4 linked regions of the Homo sapiens genome follow. The protein of the gene in region 3 purifies or fractionates together with the protein of the main gene of each other region. This does not show direct contact. Each region holds a gene or a part of one and is shown on either strand. Other genes may lie near its edges.

Region 1 (7,025 bases), on a different chromosome or scaffold from region 3:
CCTGTTTCTACTAAAAATACAAAAATTATTTGGGCATGGTGGTGCGTGCCTGTAATCCCAGCTCCTCGGGAGGCTGAGGCAGGAGAATTGCCTGAACCTAGCAGGCGGAGGTTGCAGTGAGCCGAGATCTCACTACTACTGCATACTGCATGCCAGCCTGGGCGACAGAGCGAAACTCTGCCTCAAAAAAAAAAAAAAAAAAAGAATGAAGTACTAATATATGGGCTGCCACATGGGTTACCCTTGAAAATGTGTTAAGTAAAGAAGTCAGCTCCAAAAGACCACATATTATATGATTTAATTTATAGGAAATGCCCCTAGATTTTTTAGTGGTCACCCAGTGGAGAGGAGTTGGTGGCAAATGGCAAATGATTGTTAATGAGTTCAGTTTTCTTGGGGGGCAATAAATTGTATTAAAACTGTTTGTCTATACTAAAACCACTGAATGGCATACTTTATTTTTATTTTTGAGTTGGAGTCTTGCTCTGTCACCCAGGCTGGAGTGCAATGGCACAGTCTTGGCTCTCTGCAACCTCTGCCTCCTGGGTTCAAGCGACACTCGTGCCTCAGCCTCTCGAGTAGCTGGGACTACAGGCACGCACCACCACACTCAACTAATTTTTGTATTTTTAGTAGAGATGGGGTTTCACCATGTTGGCCAGGGTGGTCTTGAACTCCTGACCTCAAGTGATCCGCCAGCCTCAGCCTCCCAAAGTGCTGGGATTACAGGCATAAGCCATGGCGCCCAGCCAAATGGTATACGTTAAATGGGCAAATTTGGCATGTGAATATCTCAATAAAGATGTTTCAAAAAAAGTAGACAGTAAAGGCATTATCAAATGATTAACAGAATTATTAATTCTATTTAGTTCATTGAGTGGACATTATTTATATCCGAAGCATGATGTTGAACTCTAGAGATACTACAAACATTACTAATATGTAGTCACTTTTCTTAAGAAACTTTGTATACTAGAACCTCGTAAGTGGCTAGAAAATGAAATCTAATAAACTGGGTATTTTCTTAGATCCCAATTAAGGAATTCAAATTAACAAACTACTTCATTACAAAATATTTTCTATAATGAATCAAATCCCAAGGACGATATTAAAGAGGTCCAGGCCAGGGGCAGTGGCTCACGCCTGTAATCCCAGCACTTTGGGAGGCCAAGGCGGGCAAATCACAAGGTCAGGAGTTTGAGACCAGCCTGACTAACATGGTGAAACCCCGTCTCTACTAAAAATACAAAAAGCAGCCAGGCGTGGTGGCATGCACCTATAATCCCAGCTACTCAGGAAGCTGAGGCAGGAGAATCGCTTGAACCCAGGAGGTGAAGATTGCAGTGAGCCGAGATTGTGCTATTGCACTCCAGCCTGGGCAACAAGAGTGAAACTGTCTCAAAAAAAAAAAAAAAAAAAAAAAGAGGTCCAAGTAGAATTGAGATACAGTCCTCTTTCACGTTTCTCAATTCAACAAAAAGGTTTTGAACATCTATGTGGAATGTACTAGGTAACAAACACAATTTAATCTTCACTTTATACCATTTTTCTAAAAATGTTGTAATACCTGGTTCTCTTTTCTGTTTCTTTTCTAATCTTTGTTTTAGGCCTTCTAGTTCCACACCATCTTCTTGAGGGCTTCCTTCAGTATTTTCATTCTAAAAGATAGCAAAGTTAGGGTTGGATATAGAATAAATTCTGAACTATGGGATTAGAGATTTTATACATTTTTGGCTGGGAGCGGTGGCTCACGCCTGTAATCCCAGCACTTTGGGAGGCCGTGGTGGGCAGATCTCTTGAGGTCAGGAGTTCGAGACCAGCCTGGCCAAGATGGTGAAACCCCATCTCTACTAAAAATACAAAAATTAGCTGGGTGTGGTGATGTGCCCCCAACTACTTGGGAGGCTGAGGCACGAGAATCGCTTGAATACGGGAGGCGGAGGTTGCTGTGAGCTGAGATCCTGCCATTGCACTCCAGCCTGGGTAACACAGCGAGACTCCATCTCAACAACAACAACAAAAAAATTTTATACATTTTTTTTTCAATTTTAAGTGGACATATGCATCAATATTTTATGCATAATATTTTTAAGAGTATTACCTCTTTTTTTTTTTTGAGATGGAGTTTTGCTCTGTTGGCCAGGCTGGAGTGCAGTGGTGTGACCTTGGCTCACTGCAACCTCTGCCTCCCGGGTTCAAGCGATTCTTCTGCCTCAGTCTCCCGAGTAGCTGGGATTACAGGCGCCTGCCACCATGCCCGCCTAATTTTTTTAATTTTTAGTAGAGACAGGGTTTCAACCATGTTGGGAGGCTGGTCTTGAACCACTGACCTCAAGTGATCCACCCACCTTGGCCCCCAAAGTGCTGGGATTATAGGTGTGAGCCACCACAAGAGTATTACCTTAATTTTCTTTTTATTTTTCTTTTCTGCCTCTGCTTTCATTTCTATGGTTATTCGTGGAATGACTCTTTGACCACGCGGAGAAGGCAAAACTTCAGCCATTTGTGTTTTTTTCCCCTTGGCCTTCCCCCCTTTCCCAGGAAGTCCGACTTGTTCATCTTGTTTTTCCTTGGCTTCAACAGCCTACAGAAGGGATATAAGAAAGCAAGTTTAAATGTTAACAAAAACATTACAATATCTAAACACCCAACAGTTAAACTGATTTCATTTTGTTACATCTTAAAAACTAGTGATAAATTGCTCCATAACCTAGTATACTATCAACAATAGTGAAGATGTAATTAAAACACACCTTGAAAAGGAAGGTGTGGAGACAGAAGGACTGGGTTTTATTCCTGATTCTACCACTTAACCTTTTTGAGGAAAACAAGGGAGAAACTAAAAATAAAACATGTATATACATATATATTTGTAAACTCACATACAAAATATGAAAGGAAGTGATGCACACTTATCCAACCAACTGATTACAATGAGCTAGGCATCTATACTGAAGTGCAGTAATACAAATTTGCATGTTAAATTTAAGAAATAAAGCTTTTGGTGGTTTTTTTTTTGTTTTTTTTTTTTTAAGAGACACGCAGGCTGAGTACAATGGTACATGATCATAGTTCACTGCAGCCTTGAACTCCTGGTCTCAAGTGATCCTCCCACCTTGGCCTCCGGAGTAGCTGAGACTATAGGCCCACACCACCATGCCTGGCTATTTAAAAAAAACATTTTGTAGAGATGAGGTCTTGCTACGTTACCCAAGCTGGTTTTGAACTCCTAATCTCAAGTGATCCTCCTGCCTCAGCCTCCCAAAGCACATTGGGATTACAGGTGTGAGCCACAGTGCTGGCCTTTTTTCTTATGTTAAAATAATGTTGAGAAACAAATGTTATTAGGAAGATTTAAGTAACAAATAACCTTCTGAAACCATCTGGATAGCCCTGCTTTCTCCTTTTTTTTTTTTTTTTTTTAGATGGAGTCTTGCTCTGTCACCCAGGCTGGAGTACAGTGGCGCAATCTCGGCTCACTGCAACTTCTGCCTTCTGGGTTCAAGCAATTTTCTTGCCTCAACCTCCTGAGTAGCTGGGATTACAGGCGGATGCCACCACACCCAACTAATTTTTGTATTTTTAGTAGAGACAGGGTTTCACCATGTTGTCCAGGCTGGTCTCGAACTCCTGACCTCAAGTGATCTGCCCACCTCAGCCTCCCAGAGTGCTGGGATTACAGGCATGAGCCACCATGCCCTGTGGCTTTGTCCTTTTAAGTTGACTTGGGGGACTGGGTTGGTGGTCTTCTTCCACATTTAGGCTCTTTTTATCTTCTCAGTCCTAATATGTTCTTCCCTTTATCAAAAATCAACTCCTGCTCTTTTCTTTTTTTGTCCAGAAATGTCTGAATGTCTGGGCAGTCTCCTGGTATCATTTACTGTATTCTAAATAGTATTTTTTTTTTTTTTTTTGAGACGGAGTTCCACTCTTGTTGCCCAGGCTGGAGTGCAATGGTGTGATCTTAGCTCACAGCAACATCTGCCTCCCGAGTTCAAGTGATTCTCCTGCCTCAGCCTCCCAAGTAGCTGGGATTACAGGCATGTGCCACTACGCCTGGCTAATTTTGCAATTTTAGTAGAGACAGGGTTTCTCCATGTTGGTCAGGCTGGTCTCGAACTCCCAACCTCAGGTGATCTGCCTGCTTCGGCCTCCCAAAGTGCTGGGATTGTAGGTGTGAGCCACCGCACCCGGCCTTGTATTCTAAGTAGTATTTAATAATCTGTCCCTTTTTTTTTTTTTTTTTTTTTGAGACGGAGTCTTGCTGTGTTGCCTAGGCTGGAGTGCAGTGGTGTGATCTCGGTTCACTGCAACCTCTGCCTCTCGGTTCAAGCAATTCTCCTGCCTCAGCCTCCTGAGTAACTGGTATGCACCATCATGCCTGGCTAATTTTTGTGTTTTTAGTAGAAATGGGGTTTTACCATGTTGGCCAGGCTGGTCTTGAACCCCTGACCTCAAGTGATCCACCCAACTCAGCCTTCCAAAATGCTGGGATTACCAGCGTGAGCCACTGCACCTGGCCAATAATCTGTTCTTTTATACGCTATTTGGAATTTATCCTTATGCCTCTTATTTTCTTTTTATTGCCAATTGTGAACTATCTTGACAAAGGTATACTGCTGGAATATATTATTTCATTAATAAAAATTCTAACATGGGCATTATAAACTACATACCTCCAATTCTTCAATAAATGTAGCCAAGTCTTCTTTCCACAAATCTGATGGACTCTTTCTTTTTAATGTGTCCAGCTCTTGTTCCTTCATAAGATAATTACAAAATTGAGTTAATATATGTATACAAGCAGCATTTTCATGCAACACACAATTTTACTTTTACCATTAGAATAGAACAAAACTAAGCAGCATGTACCATCCTACTATCAACTCACTTTTTCATTTCTTAGCCTGCAGAGTTCATCTTTCTTTTCCTTGGTTAAATACCAAAGGGGCATATCAAGAAGATAGTTGAAGGTTGGTCCAGAATCTGTTACGGAGTCACTCTTTTCAGTTTCCTTTTCGTTGTCACTCTCTTCATTTTCTTCTTCATCTGGAACCTAAAGGATTAATTAAAATCTAGCTTTATTAGAAAATGTGAAACATAAACATTGTACAATACATAGTCTTTAACAATATAGAAAAGTGCCACCCAAGATTACCTTTTGCTGGGCTTCTTTCCAGGCCTTCACAGGATCCGAATCATATCCCCTCTGAATCAGAACTTTAATTAATTCTTTCTTAGGCTTATTTTCTATTTTTAAAAAAGTAAACAGAGATAATGATTTTGAGTAATATTTTAGGAAGGGGATAAGGTTTTACACAAGTCAAAAGTTTAAAACTGGAAATTAAACTGTCTTCGTGCTTGCATAAATTTGTATATCCCGGTATACAGGCAAGTCTCCCTAAACCATTGACAAATGTAAATTACCACAAGGGGGCAGTCAAATCATATATGATCAAATCATTTTTTTTTGGAGACAGGGTCTCTCTCACTCTTGTGTCCAGGCTGGAGTGCAGTGGCACTACCTAGGCTCACTGCAGCCTTGACCTCCCCAGCTCAAGTGCTGAGATTACAGGCATGCGCCACCACACCCAGAGAGTAGAAGCCATTCGTAATCTTCCTGCCTTTTTTTTTTTTTACCATCAGATTTATTATCTCTTCTCTGTCTCTTTTATTTTCTGTTCCTGTAGACATGATTAGTGTATCTATTCTCTTGGTCAATCAGTTTATGCAAGGTCTTCTAGCTCTCTATTCTCCTCATGTCTAATTGTCAACTAAATCTTGATTTCTCAAGATGCTCAGTCAAGGAAACATCATCTCTTTCAAACTATAAATACCTAATCAGATATTTTAAAGAAATGCGTGTATAAGTGACCAGGTGAATTAAATGGATTTTGCCTCTTTCTCCACCATTACTCTCACCAAAAATGTTTAAAGAAAGTTTGGCGTAACTAGAGTTTTAGTAAGCAGTTATTATTCCCAAAACATACCAATGATTATTTTGCCATCTATTTTCTCTAAGATAAAGCGAGCCTGATTATTCAGTTTAGCAGATTCAGCACCAAGCATTCCTAGGAGCCATTCTTTTCTTAATCCATAATATTTAAGTCTGAGTTCAAAAAAGTCTCTTAGAATATCCAACACCGTGTCATATTTCTTTAAACAGCCTACGTGGTCAAAAAGCACCTGAAAAAGGAAAACAAGATTAGAGCCAAGAATAGACAAATTGGCTAAACTTTATAAAGGTAGACTAAGATATACTTTTAAAATTGATATTAATCTTTAATATAAATTGAAACGTGTACATCTCACAAAACAAATACATACCATAGAGTTGCATGTGAGACTAGTTTGGAGTTTGAAGACTTTGTGTAGTCCAACTCTCTCTGCCTCTGCCAGTTTTTCTTCAGTCATCTTCACAACAAATTTCACAGTGGTATCTGTATGGTATTCCCTATAGTCTGTTATGAGAGGAGGTGTCTTCTCGGTGCCATTCAACATGGGTTCTAGAACTTGTTCTTTGTATGTCTAAAGAAAGAAATAATCCTGAAGTTTCTAAAATATAGGCTTCTGAATAGTCAACAGCAATAGTACAAAAGGTATTTCTTTTGATCACAAACCTAAAAAAGAAATCCATAATTATTTACCTGGGTCCATGTTCTGACGGGAAGCTCTGAGATTTCAATGGTTGTAGAATTAAGAATAGCTACTTCACCACTAATCACATATTGATTTGGAGCCAGTTCTTCAATAGTACCCTTGAAGTTCTTGTAACTTGGAAGCTAAATTGGCATTTAAAAAAACAGTATGTTTTCTAAATGTGATACTAGACGGAAATCACAACAGCGTTTAACAATAAATCTAAAGTATGAAATTAAATTTTATGTTTGCATCATCTTTAATCATACAATCTATTCAACTGAAACCCAAGGAAAAGTTAAGGCTCTTAACACACACAGAATACTTACCATTGGCAAAGGTTCTTCTCCATCCATCAAACGCCTGATGTTATTTACAATTTCACG
Region 2 (7,454 bases), on a different chromosome or scaffold from region 3:
TTTTTTTTTGAGACGGAGTCTCATTCTGTCACCTAGGCTGGAGTGCAGTGGCGCAATCTCCCCTCTCTGCAACCTCTGCCTCCCGGGTTCAAGTGATTCTCCTGCCTCAGCCTCCCGAGTAGCTGGGATTACAGATGTGAGCCACCATGTCCAGCCTGGGGAGATAAATTAAATGACATTTAAAAAATTTTTTTTGAGACGGTGTCTCGCTCTGCTGCCAGGCCAGAGAGCAGTGGCACGATCTCAGCTTACTGCAATCTCCACCTCCCGGTTCAAGCAATTCTCCTGCCTCAGCCTCCCAAATAACTGAGACTACAGGCGCGAACCACCACGCCTGGCTAATTTTTGAATTTTTAGTAGAGACAGGGTTTCACCATGTTGGCTAGGGTGGTCTTGAACTTCGGACCTCAGGTGATCTGCTTGCCTCAGCCTCCCAAAGTGCTGGGATTACAGGTGTGAGCCATTGCACCGAGCCTGACATTTTAAATTTGAGTAAATATTAATCTATACCCACTGGCTGAAGAAACAGCATACTAAAAACCCCGAGTTTACATTATCAATTTTTTTTTTTTTTGAGACGAAGTCTTGCTCTGTCACAGGTTGGAGTGTAGCGGCGCGACCTCAGCTTAAAGTAATCTCCGCCTCCCAGGTTCAAGCGATTCTCCTGCCTCAGCCTCCAGACTAGCTGGGACTACAGGCCCCCGCCACCACGCCAATTTTTGTTTTCGTTTTTTTTTGTTTTGAGACGGAGTTTCGCTCTTGTTGCCCAGGCTGGAGTGCAATGGCACAATCTCTGCTCACTGCAACCTCTGCCTCCCGGTTCAAGCGATTCTCCTGCGTCTGCCTCCTGAGTAGCTAGTATTACAGGCACCCACCACCACATCCAGAGATTTTGTGTTTTTGATAGAGATGGGGTTTCATCATGTTGGCCAGGCTCATCTCAAACTCCTGATCTCAGGTGATCCACCTGCCTCGGCCTCCCAAAGTGCTGGGATTACAGGCATGAGTCACCGTGCCTAGCCCTAAAGTTTTCCTAGACATGTAAAAGGGTGTCTTGCATACTGACCAAATTTGATGGACTTTGTTGCAATACCAAGTTATAATAAAAGGAACACACAGACAGATCGACTACTAACAGCACACTACTTCAAAATGCTGAAATTAGGTATTTCCTTGGCACACTTCTTAAACTTCATGCTTCCTTTTCTTAGATTTAGAACATCATTGATAAGAGGCAGAGAGAAGGATAAGACCAGAACCTCGAAATTGTAATTGGAACTGCACTAATTCAAGATTTGGCTACTCCAACTGTTTGCTCATTTAAGGGAAAAAATGAACTCAGATTTGCTGAATGAATGATGTAACACCAAAAGGACAATGATCAAATCCAAACACTGAAGCACTTCAGAAGAATCTATTTACAACAATGATTTATGTACAAAACATTCTTAGTGATTCCTGAAATTTATCATCAACTTGGCAAAGTTTATTCAGATATTTTTTAAATACATTGTTTTCTCTTTTAAAATGATCTACAATCCCCAGTTTCCATAAATTTAGACTCGTGGTCTTCCAAACTTGTCTAACACTGAAGTTCAAGGAAATACTTAAGTTTCAGGAGACATTCTGCCACCAAAAGAGGCTAAGATCCATGGATGAGACACACACCTGAACACACTTCAGCATGATTACAAAAACCAAATGGTAACAAACCTTTTGGATAGTTGACAACATACACCAGATTTCCCCAGCCAGCATCTGGGGCATGCAGAATTCCTTCTACCAGCCGGACACCTCTCATACACTGAGACACTGGATTCCTGTAGCGAAGCCCACACGCCCCTGGAAACTGGGCTGTAACCGTGGAGAGCAGCACCGTCCCATCGTCTTCCGATGGTATTTCAATGGGCTCATCGTTCTCATCTTCGGTTACCCGAATATATTCAGACATCTTTTACTTTTCCTAAAGAGAAAAGAGATATGAATGAACAACATTCATGTCAGAATAACTGTTTCCTTATAATGATAATACCCAAACCATGTCAGAGTTCTGACTTCCAGAAAAATGCTTGTCTGGATTCGTATATGCATTGGTTATCCCTGAAAAATGACGAGGTGAAGGTAAGGGTAGTGATTTCCTATCAAAATGTGATGCCTCGCCAGTTCATTCATTCAAAAAACTTTCCCTGAAGGCTTATGATGCGTCAGGTACTGAAACTGTAACTGTGAGTCCAACGTGGCTTGCTGGTTACAAGCTAGGGTATGCAAGGGAACAATAAACAGTAGCTATTTTATGACAATCGGGTTAGTCGTTAAGTAATCCTGAAGGCAGAGGAGGAGCCTAACTGGCTGAGGCATGGGCGTGATAGGTCCCAGTCGATTTTCCTAAGCAAGCGATCCATCAGCTGAACCTGAAGACTGAATATGGGCAGTGAACCAGGTGTAAAGAACAGGAGAAAAGTTTCCCTCTGTTCCTCATTTTGGGGCTTCCGGGGGCTCTGCGAGCCCGAGCCCCAAGGCCCGCGGCGACAGGTCCTGGCGGTGCCGGCCGTCGCCTCCCAGAAGCCCGCGCGTGCCAGCCGAGGGAGGAGTTTCTCGGCGCGGCCCGGGGTGGGGCGCAGGAGCACCAGGCCCAAGCTGGCAGCGTCCCTCGAAGTACAAAGTACCGAAGGCTCCGGCACTGTCCGGGTCCGGGGCCAACCTCCGCCTCAGGCTACGCGGCACCGCGGGCCCGGCCCCCCGTTTCGGCGCCACCGGCCTCCCCGTGCCAGGACCTAACGACGCTCCCGCGCGAGCCCGCTCGGGCAGGACTAGGCCCGGTCTCACGGCTGACTTCCCGGGGCAGGGTCCGAAGCCGCTGCGTCTGCCTCGGGCCGCCCCAATGCAGAAGCCGAGGCACCTACGGCGTCCTCAGTGAGAAGGCTCCGCGACTCACCCGCTAGGCCGCTGCTGGGAAGCCCGACAGGGACACCGAAGCAGCGACGGACCCAAGCGCAGCCCAGCCACCGCTTCGCTCCCACAAAATGGCGCTAGGGCCGCCTCCTCCCCCCGCCCACCGGCGTCCTCTCCCACCGGTTGCCTGTCCAGAGGTGGAAGGCACCGACGAGAGCCACGATGACCCTCTCCCCAGGGACTCGGGCTGCCTCCTGGAAATTCAAGCCTACAGAGAAGCTCTGAAAGCTAAAATAAAACCAGGACCTAGGCCTGAAAAGCTGAAGATTGAAAAAAGTGTGGCTGTATAGGAGCTGACCTCCCCCCACGTAACGTAGCAGATGGTTTCGGCCGACCAACCGCCGGCCCAGGTCTCGGTCGGAGCTCGCGCACTTTCAAAGCGCGCGAGAGTAGCACAGAGTCTCGGCCAGCGAGGGCGGGGCGGGGCGGGGCCTGGAGGGGGCGGGGCTCGGGATCCCGGGCCGAGTCCACCTGGGAGGCAGGATAAGGCCTGGACCCCTTTTCTGAAAGGCAACCTAGTGCGTCTTCTCCTCCCTCCGCCAGCCCACCTCCAAACCTGGAAACAATAACTTTGTTCTAAATAATAGCAATGATAAGGCTACTTTGTGCCAGGTACTTTCTGAGTATTCACATATTTAATAGCCCAAACAGTTTTGTGTAGCAGGAGCTATTGATATTCATTCTGCGGGTGAGGAAACTGAGGCACAGAGAGATCAAGTGTCTTGCTTAAAGTGACGCAAGGATTAGCCGGGCGGTAGTGGCGCGCGCCTGTAGTCCCATCTACTCGGGAGCCTGAAGCAGGAGAATTGCTTGAACGCGGTAGGCGGAGGTTGCGGTGAGCCGAGATCGCGCCACTTCACTCCAGTCTAGGCGACAGAGTGAGACCCTGTCCTCCAGCCCCTCCCCCCAAAAAAATGTCACCCAAGGAATAAATGGTAGACCTGGGATTTGAATCTCGAGGCACAAAATGCTAACTTGTTCTGGCTCCAGCCCTTTAATAATAATAATAATACAGTACTTCATCTATTTTAAGGCACACTTTTTGTTTCACTTTTTTTTTTTTTTTTTTTGAGACGGAGTCTCGCTCTTGTCCCCCAGGCTGGAGTGCAGTGGCGCAATCTGCAGCTCACTGCCACTTCCAACTCCTAGGTTCAAGGGATAGCTGGGATTATAGGCGTGCAAAGACACCATGCCCGGCTAATTTTTGTATTTTTAGTAGAGACAGGGTTTGGCCATGTTGGCCAGGCTGATCTCGAACTCATGGCCTCAAGTGATCCGCCTGCCTCAGCTCCCCAAAGTGCTGGGATTACAGGCACGAGCCACCTTTCTTTTCTATCTTTTCTTTCCTTTCTTTCCTTTCCTTCCCTTCCTTTCCTCCCTTCCCTCCCTTTCCCCCCCTTCCCTCCCTTCCCACCTTCCTTCCTCCCTACCTCTCTCTCTTTCTCTCTCTCTCTCTTTCTTTTCTCTTCCTTTTTTTCAGACTCCCTCTGTTGCCTAAGGTGGAGTGCAGTGGCACAATCTCAGCTCACTGCAACCTCCGCCTCCCCGGTTCAAGCAATTCTCCTGCCTCAGCCTCCTGAGTAGTTGGGTCTACAGGCATGCACCACCATGCCCGGCTAATTTTTGTATTTTTAACCCCTGTTGGCCAGGCTGGTCTCAAACTCCTGACCTCAGGTGATCCGCCCACCTCGGCCTCCCAAAGTGCCACCACGCCCGGCCTTTGTTTCACATTTCTTTTTTTTTTCTTTTTTCTTTTTTTTGAGATGGAGTCTCGCTCTTTTGCCCAGGCTGGACTGCAGTGGCGCTATCTCGGCTCACTGCACGCTCCGCCTCCCGGGTTCACTCTATTCTCCTGCCTCAGCCTACTGAGTAGCTGGGACCACAGGCGCCCGCCACCACGCCCGGCTAATTTTTTTGTGTTTTTAATAGAGACGGGGTTTCACCGTGTTAGCCAGGATGGTCTCAATCTCCTGACCTCGTGATCCGCCCGCCTCGGCCTCCCAAAGTGCTGGGATTACAGGCGTGAGCCACCGCGACCGGCCAATGTTTCACATTGCTGAAGTCAGTATGTGATTTCAGTTCCAGTTCCAGTTGATGATGATGTGTCATAGTTTAACTGGCAACTATTTATGTTTCTTTGTATATACATGTATCACACTCAATGAAATACAGTTACAAGTGTTTACACAAAATACTTTATTTATTTATTTAAGATGGGGTCTCACTCTGTCACCCAGGCTAGAGTGCAGTGCAGTGACCTCGGCTCACTGCAACCTCTAACTCCAGGGGTCAAACGATCCTCTCACCTTAGCCTCCGGAGTAGCTTGGACCACAGGTGCACACCACCACACTCAGCCAATTTTTTATATTTTTTGTAGAGACAGGGTCTTGACATGTTACCCAAGCTGGCCTCCAACTCCTGAGCTCAAGCGATCCATCTGCCTCAGCCTCCCAAAGTGCTGGGATTACAGGCGTGAGCCACCATACCCAGCAGAGAAGTCGGTTTTATCACTCCCATTTTACAGAAGAAAAACCTGAGGCTCAGAGACCATATGACAGGCCTGAGGTCATACAGTTGCTCAAGGATGTCACCTAGCCCATAAATTGCTGTCCCAGGTTGGTCAGACCCTAAACCTCTGCACTATGTCCACCACACTGGCCACTTTCTGTCACAAGACTGAGACCGAGGTATTTAGTGCGGGTAGTGCTGTGGAGTCCTGGACACTAGCTCCAAGTGGGCAGAGCTGGGTATGCAGAAGTTCCTAGAGACAGGTCACACAGGAACATGACCCCAAAGGCTGGCCCTTCTCCTAAGAAGTTTTCAGGCTAGTTGGGAGGACAAGCAAACACTGTCTCAAAGAAGGTAAGTAACTCAGGAAGATAATTATAAGGCCAGAGGGAGACTGGACCACAGATCTTCCTGCTCCTATCTCAGTTGTCTCTGGGATTCAGCTTTACAGCACTGATTGTCAAAAGTTGTTTGAAACACAACATTTTTTTTTTTCAAGACAGAGTCTTGCTCTGTCGCCCAGGCTGGAGTGCAGTGGCACAATCTTAGCTCACTGCAACCTCTGCCTCCCGGGTTCAAGCTATTTTCCTGCCTCAGCCTCCCAAGTAGCTAGGACTGCAGGCGTGTACCACCCCACCTGGCTAATTTTTGTATTTTTCGTAGAGACGAGGTTTCACCATGTTGGCCAGGCTAGTCTCCAACTCCTGACCTCAAGCAATCCTCCCGCCTCAGCCTCCCAAAGTACTGGGATTACAGGCATGAGCCACTGTGCCTGGCCCAGGCCCTGGTTTTCAACTGGGTCACTTGGGGACTTACCTTCTCCCCTTCCATCAACCCCCTTGAATTCTCCCAGCTCATCAGCTCCATGAGGCAAACAGGACACAGCTCCACAACATTCCTGAAAACTGAAAGAAGCCTGGGCGCGGTGGCTCACGCCTGTAATCCCAGCACTTTGGGAGGCCGAGGTGGGTGGATCACCAGAGGTCAGGAGTTCAAGGCCAACATTGTGAAACCCCGTCTCTACTAAAAATACAAAAAATTAGCAGGGCATTGTGGCAGGCACCTGCAATCGCAGCTACTCCAGAGGCTGAGACAGGAGAATCGCTTGAACCCGGGAGGCAGAGGTTGCAGTGAGCCAAGATCACACCATTGCACTCCAGCCTGGGCAACAAGAGTGAAACTCTGTCTCAAAAGAAAAAAAAAAAAAAGACAAAACTGAAAGAAATACTAGGGCAATAATGATACATAGATTTATTTATTTATTTATTTATTTTTTGAGACGGAGTCTTGCTCTGTCACCCAGGCTGGAGTGCAGTGGCCCAATCTCGGCTCACTGCAAGCTCCACCTCCCGGGTTCACGCCATTCTCCTGCCTCAGCCTCCCAAGTAGCTGGGACTACAGGTGCCCGCCACCACGCCCGGCTAATTTTTTGTATTTTTAGTAGAGACGGGGTTTCACCGTGTCTCAGTCTCCTGAGCTCGTGATCTGCCCGCCTCCGCCTCCCAAAGTGCTGGGATTACAGGCGTGAGCCACTGTGCCCGGCCCTATTTATTTATTTATTTATTTATTTATTTATTTATTTATGTAGGTGTGCACCACCACATCTGGCTAATTAAAAAAACTTTTTTGTAAAGACAGGGTCTCATTATGTTGCCTAGGCTGGTTATGAATTCCTTGCCTCAAGTGATCCTTTCACCTTGGCATTCCCACATGCTAGAATTACAGGCACATACCACCACCCAGCCAATAAAGATATTTAAATAAAAGTAACTTTAGGGCCGGGAGTGGTGGCTCACACCTGTAATCCCAGCACTTTGGGAGGCCGAGGCGGGCGGATCATGTGAGGTCGGGTTCAGCCTGACCAACATGGAGAAACCCTGTCTCTACTAAAAATACAAAATTAGCCGGGCGTGGTGGCGCATGCCTCTAATCTCAGCTACTTGGGAGGCTGAAGCAGGAGAATCACTTGAAACCAGGAGGCGGAGGTTGCAGT
Region 3 (7,025 bases):
GTTGAGACAGGTTTTTCCCATGTTGCCCAGGCTGATCTTGAACTCCTGGGCTCAAGTGATCTGCCCATCTCGGCCTCCCAAAGTGCTGGGATTATAGGCATGAGCCTCCAGGCCTGCCCCAAAGATTTTTAATCCACAATTTAAGGTATGAGAAACAAACAAAGTGGTGTGTATGCAGCAAGCCTTGTCACTGGACAACTGAAGTTGCCGCAAAGTCAAAGCAAGTCAGTACCCTCCTGAGCCAGCCTTTCTATGATTTACAGCAATAGTATCATACTCAATGCTCCCTAGTGACCCCTCCAGCTTGGTTAAAATTTCACAATAGATATATGTGCAAATTTAAAGAAAGTAAAGATGTTCCCTTTGTACAAAAGCCTAATAAAGCAATTTCTGAAAAAGGTGTTGTTGTTGTTGTTTTTTAGCATTGGCAAGGAACTAAAAATTCTGTTCTAAGCTTCACCTTTCATAAAGTAATCCTCTCATGCTCTTTAATCCTCAATGTTGTAAGGTAAGTATTAAACCTACTTTATAGGTGAAGAACTAAGGCTCTGATATTAACTTGTTCAAAGACCTAGCCATTGAGCAGAAGCTCAAGAACTCGAATTTAAATTCCCTTTAAGTCTCTATTATGGGGTGGTGGGGATGTAGAGGGGGTTGGAGGCCGGGAGACTATTCGCATTCTGTATCAGAGGAAAACGAAAGAAAAAGAGACCAAAGCTTTGAAGACTTTTAAATCCAACCCTATTGTGGGCACATTCCTTGTATACTGAGGGCAATGGAGCTACAGAGCATTAACAAATACTCATCTTCCCAGATTTTTTTCCCCATATTTTATGAGCTATATTTTTCCTGATATGTTTATCTTTGAAGACTCTTTAAAATTAGGCCCTATTCCATAATTTCTATACAACAAAATTATGTCCTCCTGCCTACTTTTAATTGAATTTAAGTCTGCGCCTGTTGTGATGCTTCTGTGATAATCCTTTTGCTGAATGGCGTAAGATCTCTACTAAGATCCATTTGGCTTAAACCTAATGAACACTAGTGAACACATCCTTAAATGACTTTTGTTTATTTCCTTTAAGTAACACTTCCAAAAAAACAAATTCAAGGCAATTCAATATTCAGCATTAGCTAGACTTATGAGCCATTACTGAAATTTCTACTGACTTTATCAAATTTTTTCATGGAATCTCCCAAATGCCTATACTCACGCATAACTGTTAACACGGCATTTGGTACTAAATTCTCACACATAAGCTTTATTATATTATTTAAGGTATTCTTATTCCCAAGAATTACTATTTCAAAGAAAACCAAGTTGGTCACTTTAAGCAACTATTTGAATAAATGAAAAACTGAAGTAATTCTCAGGTGCTTTGAGAGTTCTCTGTTTAATTTAAAAACGTTTTGGGGGAGAAGTAAAATAGTGGCCTTTGAAAAAATATGCTGACACAAGACATATTGAATTTTGTGGTTTTAAAAAATTAACAAATAATGAACTTGGCATTTTATTAAATGCATCGAAAAGGGTCAAGTTATTTTTAATAGAAAATCCATAATTCTATTAAATGGTTGAGAAATTAGTCACATCAATAGACTTCTTTCATTTCTGAGCCCATCTTCTGTACTGCTACAAGTTCCTTTGGCAATGACCACTTTGCTGTAAACATTCTTAGAAAAGTAGGAATTAGGCTTGGCGCGGTGGCTCATGCATGTAATCCCAGCACTTTGGGAGGCCGAGGCTGGTGGATCACGAGGTCAGGAGATCGAGACCATCCTGGCTAACACGGTGAAACCCTGTATCTACTAAAAATACAAAAAATTAGCCAGGCGTGGTGGCGGGCGCCTGTAGTCCCAGCAACTTAGGAGGCTAAGGCAGGAGAATGGCGTGAACCTGGGAGGCGGAGCTTGCAGTGAGCCGAGATTGCGCCACTGCACTCCAGCCTGGGTAACAGAGTGAGACTCCATCTCAAAAAAAAAAAAAAAAGAAAAGTAGGAACTAGATATACAATTGGATCCTTCTCAGCCCAAACCTAGATATGAAGACACCTTTTACTTTACAGTGACCGCTTTGTAACTGGAAGACATCAGTGTAGGCTCTGCTGATTCAATTAGGTAAAGACTCAACAACACTAGTTACATGTTACAATTCACTGTGTAAATGTCAAGAAGATTTAAAACTTTAACAGGGAATACCAATGAAAGACAGACTCCCCAACATCAATCACTATTTCAAACCTAACATTCAAAATAAAGATCCAGTTGAGAATAGAGGCTGTCTCATCAAAGTTTACATTTTACAATGAGGACAGAGAGGCACCTTCATATACTTATCTAATTCTCAACAGTTTGTGAAACATAAATATTATCCTTGCTTATGGATAAGAAAACAAGGTTCAGTGGTCAGATCATGTTTCATAGGAAGAACAGGGACTTATCTCGATTTTTCGGAATCCTACACCAATTTTCTATTTTACCACAGCTGTCTCCTCACACCCCCACTCTTCCCCTAGACCTAACATTCCACATACAAAGGGTCCAAGCTATCTCTAACAGCAGATAATCAAGGGCAGGTTCTGACATCTGTACTAGAAGCTTACCAATTACAGCCTGAGTGGGGTTTCCAGAATCTGGACCAAGGCAGCATGTTATCAAAAAGGGGACATGAAAAGGCATAAAGGGTAAAAAGAAAAAAACGTTTCCTTTCCTGGTCTCTGGTTCTCCCCATAAGCCTATGCAATCTATATTATCTTTATTCAATTCAGATTTAATGCACATAAAAATGTGGTGCCTAATAAGTTTTCAAAATTAGTTCCCTTCATCCCACTTCTGCTGCTTGGCAAGAGCTCACATAGTCAACTACAAGGAAACAAAGGGGCTACCTTACTGGAGTCAGGTTAAGTAAAAGGTCTTAGCCAATGAGATCCACAAATGACAATGATCCTGAAGCCTCCTAGATTAGTCTCCTGCACAATCAGTAATATACCTACAAAGCTTTATAAATCTGGGCATTCATACATATATGATAGCAAGATTAACATTTGGACTTCTACTAAGGGGAAAAAGGGTGTATTATTCTGGTGGAGGACTAACCTTCAACAAAGAACTTTTTTTCTATAAACTCCAATAGCCAAGAAAAGTCCTAGGCATCTATCTTTGCTAGCGTGTGCTAAGAAAAACAATATAAAGAATAATGGGACCACAAGCTGGCTGGGTCGGTTTCGTTCTTAAAATATAGGAAAACGTCAGAATACCCAGGGATCTGTTAAATTCTTTTCCCAACATCATCATTTACAACAACAAATACAGGAGATCTGAAGTCCCTAAAAATACTGATTGCTTTAACATCTTTTGTTGGAGCTTACCTAGGTGTTTCTTAGGAATGCTAATGAACTGTGTTCTTTAGGCTCCTTGAATCCACAGAAACAAAAATGTTAATTTCAAAGGCTCAGAGGGGAATTAATTGCCTGGTAGAGATGCCTCCCCACCCCAAATCTGATGGGAAGGGTAGAAGGGAGATGGTAAATTAAAACATTTATTACACATTTCAGAAAAATTTAGCAGACAGGTAAGTGAGTGAAACTAGAAGCTTAAGACAACAAATGAAAAATGAATACCTACCAAAAAGAAATTAAGGGTCAGGCACAGTGGCTCATGCCCAGCACTTTGAGAGGCTGAGGTGGGCAGGCTGCTTGAGCCCAGGGGTTCAAGACCAGCCTGGGCAACATGGCGAGAAACCTCGTCTCTACAAAAAATGCAAAAATTAGCCCGGCGTGGTGACATGCACCTGTAGTTCCAGCTACTTGGGAGGGTGAGGTAGGAGGATCGCTTGAGCCCAGGAGGCAGAGGTTGCAGTGAGCTGCAATCACACTACTGCGCTCCAGCCCGGGCAACAAACAGAAACCCTGTCTGCCCCCCACCCCGCCCAAAAAAAAAGTAAAGGAAAGAAGTTAAAATTAAAAGTTGCCTACCTTCCTTGGAATTTCTTTCTTACTAAACGTTAAGAGACATAAATGACACACATAAAGACAGTTAATACAAACTTCGATACAGATAGCCAAAGTTGATATTACGATCTATATACTCCAGAGATATGCATGAGATACCAGTAACATCACTTCTCTCCCAGTGTGAAAAATATCTAGGATCTTTCCTATACACACAGAAAATGTTCAACAATATCTATTTACTATTAAATCATTTCAGCAAACTATCAGCCATTTCTCATAACGCCACCAAAATACCATCAATATCTAACAGACATTCCTCTACAAGCTTCCCCGCAACCCCCAATCAAACTTTGTCCACCCTGCCCTCATTTACATCCCTCTCCACCCTTCCCAGGCCCTATGCTATCAACACAGCACATACTGTCCACATCTAGATAGGCAGGTGGCAGGGAGGGTGGGGGTTGGCAAAATGCTAATTATTCCAACCCTGGCCTCTATTTTAGATTTTCTACTGCAGCTATTGGCCTGGAGCCATGGGGATGGAAAGCTGCTGCTCAAACTTGAGATGTATGAGGCATGGAAATAGGGAGAAAAGACAGTTCCAAATATTACTACTCGAAGTTTAAACACAATCTGAAAGCTTCCTTTAAACACAATACCCATTCGCCTCTTAAGGACTAGTTTGGAAGTCTCTAAACTTTTTACCTTAAGAAATCCATGTGTCAACTGTTTGCCTAAATGCCCTTATTATCCAAAGTTAATGGTTTCAAAATAATTAAGGGATAGTCAGATAATCTAAACCATACAACACAGAAAATTCACTCAACTGACTCTCACCTCCACATCCAATATATTTTACTATTCTTTCAATAGGGTTTTTTTTTTTAAACCTCCAGGTCCAATGTCAAAATACTCATTTCAAACATTTCCACAGCTTCATTCAAACTAATTACATTTGAATTCATTTTCCCAAGCAAACACAGTTTACTGGAGTTCGACACAGTTTCACATGGGAAAGATGCAATCCCTCACAAAACACACTTCTGAGGAAACGACTTTGGATTTGAAGAATATCAGTTTTACTTTGCACTAAAAAGATGGCAAAAGGCAAAAGTTGATAATGATGTGTCATATAAATATGCATTCATGTCCAACTAATATGAAATAACATGGTTTTAGTATAATCTGAAACTTCTAAAATGATATGTATTCAGAAAGCACAACAGAATCATTTTCCATACCATTAGCAGCAGGGACAACTGTTACTATATAATTAATATACAACAAAGCTGTATATTAGAAGGCAAACATTTTTTTGCACCTCCCCACCCCACACATGCACTGAAAACAAGCAAAACAAAAAAACCTCACAGCCCAATTTTGGAATATAAACTTTAAGACATGTTATTTAATAATCTGAACAAACTAATGAATGTCTTTCCAACTCTCTCAATTCCCCATCTTTATGCTGACAGCAAGGGGAAAAAGTCAGACTCAATTCCTTTTTTTTTTTTTTTTTTTTGCTGCTATTGGTTAAAATGAGATTTGGGGACTGACCTTGGTTTCCTATTTTCCATTTTACTCTATCTACTGAACCAAAGAAAAGCAGGAGTTGGTGACCGTTACTGCTAGCTATATTATTTAGTTTGCACCTTTCAAGCCACAACGTATTTCTGATTCTTTTAGTGATGCCTGGATTTTCTTGTTTTTACTAGAAACATCCAATCCGAGCCTAAAATTTGTTTGTGAGATCTGATATGCTGGTAAACTAAAAAAACACATATTGACAAGCAACTTTCTTTTATGTCAAAGCATAGTATAAAAATCCTAGCGGCTCACTAATTCTAAAAAGGTGCCTCAAGGAGTCCAGTTGCAATGTAAGGGAAGAAAACCACCCTGGAGCATAATGCTTAAGTATTTCCTGATTGAGTCTGAGGATGCTGCAGATTTCATTTGGCGGTACCATCACTTTTCAGTTTTAAAAATGTAGTGGCAATTTTCAGATAGCCACATCATCAGCTATCTGAAATTCCCCCACCGCAATCAGCTATGCTACCGCCCATCCCAACCCATACCCAACAGACAGAAGTACAACTATCTATTAGCATCAGAAACAATTCATATTTAATTACCTTCATCCAATTTGATTCCATTAAGCCAACCAGAATCAGCACAAGATGATGTCAAACCATGATCCTATATATCACTTCTTAGACTAAAGACTGATGGAGCCAAGTATTGTGCTTTGCTAAGGGGGTCAAATGGGGGAGAACTCCCTATCTCCATAGCAGACAGGCAAAAACTTCAAGACCTCTGAAACAGCAGAAGAATCGCTAACACTTTAACCTGGTATTACCATTATCAATTCTACAGATAGCTACGCAGCCTGTACAGTACTGTAATAATGACTCAGCCCCACTACAGTTAGTTCTACCAATACTTAGGAAGTCTTTTCACTTAGACTTAGATATGGTTTCTGCTCCAAATTCCTAACTCACTGTCAACATTTTAAATATAAATAACAGAGTCTCCCAGCAGTTGAGTATGGGTCAGAATGTTCTAAATTACATGCAAAGAGCTACAATTTTAAATATTGCGAAGAATGAGCTCCAAAGTGGGGGGACGGGGGGGAATCTTTTATATCTTAGGGGATGAGGGCAGGCAAAATGAGAGACGTTTGATTTTAATATATGAACTTGTACAGTTAATCTGTAAGATGGGTTAGGCCCTCTTAAAATCACGCTTAAACAATCTCTTAATACAAAGTTCAATAATGACATGTCTGGGCATAATTAAACATTGATTTCTACTTTTTTTAAAGTTTTTTTCATAGTTACATAAATCAATCACTGGTTAACAATGTATTACTTGAGATAGCAAGCATAGTTACCAACACCACATCTTCCAGACAATATTCACAAAGAATAATTACACCAATGTCAGAACTTTATGGTGGCAGATTCTCTTCAAAAAGCATGTTTAGATAAAAAGCAAATGACAAATTATCAAATCCTTCCTTCTCTCCTTTTTCAGCTCTGTAAGAAAATAGAGATTTGTGGCTTTTTATTTTTT
Region 4 (7,025 bases), on a different chromosome or scaffold from region 3:
GATTAATCACAAGCAGAGTACCCACAGAACATTTTAAGATATTTTGATGTGTTTCTGTACTGTCCGTTCTTAAATGATTTTTATGTAGTTCATTTATGTCTCCTATGTATTGTACGTTTTCAGATACTATTTTTTTGACTCAAATTATAATTTGCACATCACTTGAAGTTGTATTTTTAAAAGACTATTATTGCTGGACATTTATTACTATTGGGTTGTTAGTTGTTAGAACTCGGTTATAAAAATTCATATAGAATATGACCAAGTAATTTAGATCTGTATGAGGCAAAAAGCAAAAGTAGACCTATTCATTCTACAAGTGGTTTTTACACCTTCCAGATGTAAAGGGAGTAACAAGGCAAGAAAATGGGATCAGGGCCGAGTGCAGTGGCTTTCACCTGTAATCCCAGCACTTTGGGAGGCCGAGGCAGGCGGATCACCTGAGGTCAGAAGTTCAAGATCACCCTGACCAACATGGAGAAACCTGGTCTTTGCTAAAAATACAAAATTAGCCGGGCCTGGTGGCGCATGCCTGTAATCCCAGCTACTGGGGAGGCTGAGGCAGGAGAATCACTTGGAACAGGGAGGCGTAGGTTGCAGTGAGCCAAGATTGCTCCATTGCACTCCATCCTTGGCAACGAGTGAAACTCCAACTCAAAAAAATTAAAAAAAAAATGTGATCAAGGAGTTTGTTTTACTTATCTAAACTATTGTACTACTATAAAAGGATGCTGGCAACCTGTTACATGAAAGAACTGAGGGACTGTTCTTAGGATTTCTAACAACAGTCTGCGTAACATGTTAAAAGTGGTGCTCGAGAAACCACACCATACTACCTAGAGAGAAATGGTATTGTTTAAGCATCAATAACACCACAAAAAGGTATTGCCACTTGTAGGACGAGGTAGTCTTGACAAAATATTGCAGATGAAGCTGAGTAAGCCTTGGTCCCAGCTGCTGCTTTCAAGAGTTACAGAAGAATATGTGGAATTGTTCTGAGAGTATCAATCCTGGAAAATACAGACTGGGAAACTACAAGTTAATACTGTGGATTCTTAAACAGATAAATTTTAACCTAATGCAATAGAAGCGGAACTTACCTACAAAAATGCTTCAAATGCATCACGTTTATTTTTCTGGGAAGACTAGAATGTCTATAGTTATACATTTAGGCATTAGAATTATTTTAAAAGTGAGAAAGTGCTAGTAAAGTCATAATGGTTGTTACCTTTTGGTGAGAGGAAGGGGGATTGGCAGTGGAATCAACCACATAGGGTTTGTTTACTTATGAGACTTTACAGGGATGCAACTGCTCTTGCACCTTCACACATTTTTATTGAAGTCCCTTGTGCTCACCCACTATTGGAGCAGGTGAAACTTCTAAGTTTTAACTGCTTTTCTAAAATTTCGTTCCTGTTGCTTTTCAATAAATAACTGCTGGTTATTTTGGTATTCTTGTATTTCTAAGTCTATTATTCTCCAAGTTGCTTACCTTTTATTTCTCCCACAGTCAGTGAAACCATATATGCTGGCTTGCCTTTACTGCCTTGCATTTTGGAATTTTGATTTAAATGCTGTCTGTAGGATAGTGATTTTGCCATCTTGAGTCTTATTTTGGGAGTCAGAGATTCAAAAACTACTCTGCTCTTGCTGACCCCTTCCAAGAATCCCAGTTCTTTTCCAGTAGTTTCTTTGTGTTACAGTATCGTCCTCCCTTTATGGAAATTTCACCTGTATGATACTTTAAAATTTTGAAGTAGAATGAAGTGTGACTTGACATCATTTGGTTATTTCTAAAACTTCAGGAAATGTACCTCTTCCATAAAATTTGAAGTAGCAATACCACTGGAATTTAAGGAAGCTCTCAGGACAGTCTTTGTTACTATTTGTGCCCTGGATTTTCCCTGAAATGTGGTACTCAGCACATGGTTAGTAAATATTTGATCCCCAAAATGAATGAATTTGTAGTGACTGTTCATTCCTTAGGAGGACACGTTACTAAGAGTGGAATTAATCCGTATTGTGAGTACGTCTGTCTTTACTGTTGCCTCCATCTTGAATTTAAGTCCTCATAGTAAGTATGGGTATTTTATTAATTTTAGGCAAACTTTGGAAGTTGGGATTTTTGTATTTTAAAAATAAGTAGTTGATGATTTTTGTAGCAAATTTAATAACCAGACCATAAAGAAAATGAGAAATCATATCCTTAAACTCATAACAACCATTGCTAGCATCCTTGTATGCCTGGATGCTTTTCTACTGAGTTTTTCCTTTGTGGATCTTTGAGAGAATTAAGGCCTGATACACATGAAAAATGCCGTGGGGTATGAATTCCTTGCATCTTGATTAGTACTAGCTATGTACTCAGACTTGTGAAAATAATACTAGCTATGTACTCAGACTTGTGAAAATTGAGAAAATGGTCATTTAAATCCATTTCTGTCTTATTCCAAAGGGTACCCCTTTCAATCACATCTGTATTTTTCTGCAAATGTCCATTTGGAACATTGGACTGTGGTTTGATGGGTTTTTTCCCTTATGGTCAGTATTCTGTGTTGGCTTACGGAGCCCCTCACCCCTGGTAATTTCTTCTCATTAAACCTATGGAGATTATATTTTCTATTGATAAACCTATTTGTGAAAAATAGTTGCTTAAAACCAGATTATACCTCCACTTGTAATAATGGGAAATCTTAATAACCAGCAGTAGTATCTGAAACCAGTTAGGCCTCAATGCAGATTTTTGTTTTAATTCCTCTTTTTAGTGTCCTCAGACTTTCTGGCATACTTAATAGCTGAAAGGCTGTTGGTGGATTTCAGTGGCTACTGTTTGTTAATTTTTATTGCTTAGTGTTAAAATATTAAGAAGTTTTTGTAAAGATATACTTTAGAAAGTAACAAAGACAGACTTTTGAATTTCAGAAAGATTTGGAAGGAAGTGAAGTTTTGTTTGAGCTTTTAAATCAGTACTGCCTGTTAAATGACTGTATTAAGCATCAGAATGATAGGAGTCATGTATATATGAAATGGTGTTAAACTACCTGTTTTTATGTACATATATGTATACATTAGACTTTTTTACATCATCCGTGAGAACTAGTTTGTCATGATTCACTTGAGGATTGGAAGGATAACAAATACTGGAATCTTTTGAGATTTATCAGTACCTTTCAAAGGGATGAAGGGGAAATCAATCTTAAGAATGTTTTTAAATCTTGTTCAAGATTGGGGGTTGGAGTGGGAAGAGGCAGGAAACAAAATGCTAAAAGAATGAAATAAAACATTTTCGCTTTACGGGACCTGAGATGGTATTGTGAATCTGCATATGGTTATGGTAGGATTGAGCCTCCATCACATACATAAAGACAGATAATTTTTGGTTTTAAATAATGCGTGGAAAGTTGTGTATTTTTCTTTAATTCCCCAATCTTTAATTTGATTCATGCCGTGTTCCACTGGCTAGTTTTATCATCATCACCATCCGATATTATTAAATGTCCTATATTTTAGGTTATATAAAAAGTAGCCTTCGAGTCATTGCAGTCTGTAAAAAGATGGTATTGATACTTATGTATCTAAAGCATACTGCAGATTAATTGAAGTATCTGGAAATAGGTGTTTCCAGTGTAAATGAATTGATTCTATTTATTGCCTTTTGAAGAAAATTATACTTAATGGGTAAGTGTAAGCTATCCATATTAATCTAGCTAATGAATGGCTTGGGACAGAATTTGACGTTTGCTATGCTGTGTGTATATATACAGAACCGGTGAAACTCAATAAAAGCAACGTGAATCAAGATTATTGATGGCAGGGAATAGTTAGCATGACCTGTAATGTGAAAAACAGCAGAAACTGGTGTCAGAGAATTTAGGCAAATCTAATTTGCTTGAGTACTTAGAGGAGGGCCACTTGGAATTATGTCCAAGGAAATTATATTGCCAATGATCTGCCAGGGAGAATTTTTTTTTCCTGAGAATTTAGAGTTTAGTGCTGCTGAAATAGAATGGAAGAGGAAGAAGTTGACTTTCTAGAGTATATTCAGAGGCTGGAGTCTCTGAAATTATTAGCAAATACATACTTAATGCTGTGAGTCCCTTTAAGTTGCCTAATACTCTGGGCAGTTAACAGTGATTCAGAGTGAGAGTGGAGAATGTTTTATCAAGGAATATTGTTTTTAGCATCTGTTCACCTGTATACTTTTTTTTGCTTTACAGTTTTCGGCTTTGTGAGAAACCTTACCATCAAACACGATGGCCAGCAACGTTACCAACAAGACAGATCCTCGCTCCATGAACTCCCGTGTATTCATTGGGAATCTCAACACTCTTGTGGTCAAGAAATCTGATGTGGAGGCAATCTTTTCGAAGTATGGCAAAATTGTGGGCTGCTCTGTTCATAAGGGCTTTGCCTTCGTTCAGTATGTTAATGAGAGAAATGCCCGGGCTGCTGTAGCAGGAGAGGATGGCAGAATGATTGCTGGCCAGGTTTTAGGTAAGTGAATTTTTTCATTGATGATGTAATTCAGGCCTGAGTTTTTCTATTCACGTTTTTTTTTTGTCTTTATGTCTGTAAAACTGACAGCATGAGATATTCTGGATATTGCGACTGTTTAGCCTAATAAAAATACATTAGGCTTATAGTTATAATTGGCTAAGTAAAGGATATTCTTCATTGTACCATTTTGTGTAGTAGAGCTAGGACAACTCTACTACAATCGTGAGTAGGGGGAGCTGGGAATGACACTTCACAATGTAAAAACGTTGCCTAAATGGTTGTGTCCTGCCCACAGCAGACTGGAGGAGCCCTCTAGTGTTGATTGCTTGTCTCCCCATTGGGATTTCACTCCATCCGTTGGGCCGACTGCAGTTTGGCTCAGTGTTAGATTTTCTTGTATTTTAAAATGTAATGACACCTCAGAGTACTTACTACCTATGATTTGGTTTATTCAAGCCAGAATCCAGTGTCCACATGTTTATTTTATTAGTTGTACTAGATGTCTGTTTTAACTTCTCATTTTATGTGTACCTTGTGCCTCAGTTTCAAAATTATCATACCTTTGTTTTTACAAAGTTAAGATGATTATTTTTAAATTTATATTTGTGATTTAGTTTATTCTTTGTATACATTCTACTATGTATATTGACTCAAAGCATGGTAGGTTAGAGTTATGTGAAACAATTCTTTGATAATGTTATGTAACCAACCAGATACATAATTTGGGTCTATTTCATTGTTTTTACATCTTACTGGATTGCTTTTTCAGAAATTTAATTCTCTTTAGTTTTGAAACACTTTATATGGTTTCAAAGTCAGAATTGTAAATGAGGTTAATGTACCAAAACCTGAAGGTTATTCATGTAATGGTGTTCAGCAAATAGACAATATATTCAGTCCTTTTTTTTTTTTTGAGACAGAGTCTAGCTCTGTTGTCCAGGATTGTGTGCAGTAGTGCAGTCTTGGCTAATTGTAACCTCAGCCTCCCGGGTTCAAGCGATTGTCCTGTTTCAGCCTCCCGAGTAGCTGGTACTACAGGCATGTGCCACCACACCTGGCTAATTTTTGTATTTTTTAGTAGAGGTGAGGTTTCACCATGGTGGCCAGGCTGGTCTTCAACTCTTGACCTCAGGTGATCCTCCCGCTTTGGCCTCCCAAAGTGCTGGGATTACAGGCGTCAGCCATTGGACCTGGCCTGAGTCAGTTTTCAGTTGGTCATTTGATGAGCTGCTTTTGTATAAAAAGGGAAGATAAATAAGATTAAGTTTAAGATATCCACATTTGGCCAGGTTCGGTGGCTCATGCCTGTAATTCCAGCACTTTGGGAGGCTTGAGTTGGGCAGGCCATGAGGTCAGGAGATGGAGACCATCCTGGCTAACACCGTGAAAAGCCATCTCTATTAAAAAATAAAATTAGCAGGCTGTGGTTCTGGGTACCGGTAATCCCAGCCGCTCAGGAGGCTGAGGCAGGAGAATTGCTTGAACCCGGGAGGTGGAGGTTACAGTGAGCCGTGATTGCACTCCAGCCTGGGCAATGGGGCAAGACTCTGTCTAAAAAAATACCCACACTCATCTAGTTAATGGTTTGAGGTGGAATTTGGAATTTATATTTTGGGGCATTTGTATATTAAAATGAAGCTCATTTTAATAAAAGCAGTATATATGAAAATGGAGTTACTGTTGACTCGAGTGCTGTAGCATGACTGGGAAGGTAAACTGAATTTTAGAGAGTTTTTGGCTTTTTGACATGGGCTTTTTAGAACAAGGAGAAGATAAATTCTTGTTTGGTAGGCAGTGGGTGGCAGGGTAGGTAGCTGGGCATACGTGTTACAAATTGTATTTGAAAACCAGGGTTGTTTCCCTTTGCTCTTTTATTTTTTTTGGTGTGTGTAAAGGTTGTTTAAGCAATTGATCAATTATTCAGAAAGCAGTCGTTAACCCAGGATATTTTACGTGTAGAACAGCTAATCCTTACTTATAAAGAAAATCTGAAGTTGCCTTTGAGGATGATTTGAGGTTGTCACACTTCACTATGTTAATTTGTGAATTGGCATATATTTTAATATATTTCATTCTAATATATTTGTAATAATTCGGAATGAGCTGAACCATTCTTGGAAAGGCAACCAGTGATAGTTTTCTCTTGTAATAGTAACTGAGTGAACAGTCAGTACCTTGAATGGGGAGAGTTGAGTTGAAGTGGTATCTGAGGGTGGAGAGTACCAAAGACAGACTTAATGTTAGTCTCAGGAACACTTGAATGGTAAAGAACAGACTACAAAGAAACGGAAGATGAAGCCTTAGCCTTGTAAAAATTTGTGAGCCTTTTTAATATTAAAAGGAGAGATGAAGCTGAGCTTGATAGCTCACACCTGTGATTCCAGCACTTTGGGAGGTCAAGGCAGATCACGTGACCCCAAGAGTTCGTCCCTACGAAAAATAGAAAAATTAACCAGGCGTGGTGGTCCCTGCTACTTGGGTGGGAGGATCACCTGAGCTTCGGAGGTCTAGGCTGTATTGAGCCATTA

The links.
Region 1: the proteins of TOP1 (region 3) and TOP2A purify together in Homo sapiens (co-immunoprecipitation; 4 studies listed by BioGRID and IntAct, with this or other methods). This does not show direct contact.
Region 2: the proteins of TOP1 (region 3) and TARDBP purify together in Homo sapiens (affinity purification with mass spectrometry; 2 studies listed by BioGRID and IntAct, with this or other methods). This does not show direct contact.
Region 4: the proteins of TOP1 (region 3) and HNRNPC purify together in Homo sapiens (affinity purification with mass spectrometry; 3 studies listed by BioGRID and IntAct, with this or other methods). This does not show direct contact.

The regions. Positions count from the first base shown.
Region 1 is NC_000017.11:40,393,882-40,400,906, forward strand, and holds part of TOP2A (DNA topoisomerase 2-alpha), read right to left. Parts: coding exon 6,969-7,025; intron 6,783-6,968; coding exon 6,648-6,782; intron 6,529-6,647; coding exon 6,328-6,528; intron 6,187-6,327; coding exon 5,991-6,186; intron 5,251-5,990; coding exon 5,159-5,250; intron 5,057-5,158; coding exon 4,892-5,056; intron 4,761-4,891; coding exon 4,677-4,760; intron 2,585-4,676; coding exon 2,402-2,584; intron 1,659-2,401; coding exon 1,568-1,658; intron 1-1,567. UniProt on the Homo sapiens protein: Key decatenating enzyme that alters DNA topology by binding to two double-stranded DNA molecules, generating a double-stranded break in one of the strands, passing the intact strand through the broken strand, and religating the broken strand.
Region 2 is NC_000001.11:11,008,225-11,015,678, reverse strand, and holds the start of TARDBP (TAR DNA-binding protein 43), read right to left. Parts: upstream 3,026-7,454; 5' UTR 2,936-3,025; intron 1,964-2,935; 5' UTR 1,952-1,963; coding exon 1,714-1,951; intron 1-1,713. UniProt on the Homo sapiens protein: RNA-binding protein that is involved in various steps of RNA biogenesis and processing.
Region 3 is NC_000020.11:41,031,798-41,038,822, reverse strand, and holds part of TOP1 (DNA topoisomerase 1), read right to left. Parts: intron 1-7,025. UniProt on the Homo sapiens protein: Releases the supercoiling and torsional tension of DNA introduced during the DNA replication and transcription by transiently cleaving and rejoining one strand of the DNA duplex.
Region 4 is NC_000014.9:21,231,422-21,238,446, reverse strand, and holds part of HNRNPC (heterogeneous nuclear ribonucleoproteins C1/C2), read left to right. Parts: intron 1-1,986; exon of another isoform or gene 1,987-2,074; intron 2,075-4,217; 5' UTR 4,218-4,253; coding exon 4,254-4,494; intron 4,495-7,025. UniProt on the Homo sapiens protein: Binds pre-mRNA and nucleates the assembly of 40S hnRNP particles. Interacts with poly-U tracts in the 3'-UTR or 5'-UTR of mRNA and modulates the stability and the level of translation of bound mRNA molecules. Single HNRNPC tetramers bind 230-240 nucleotides.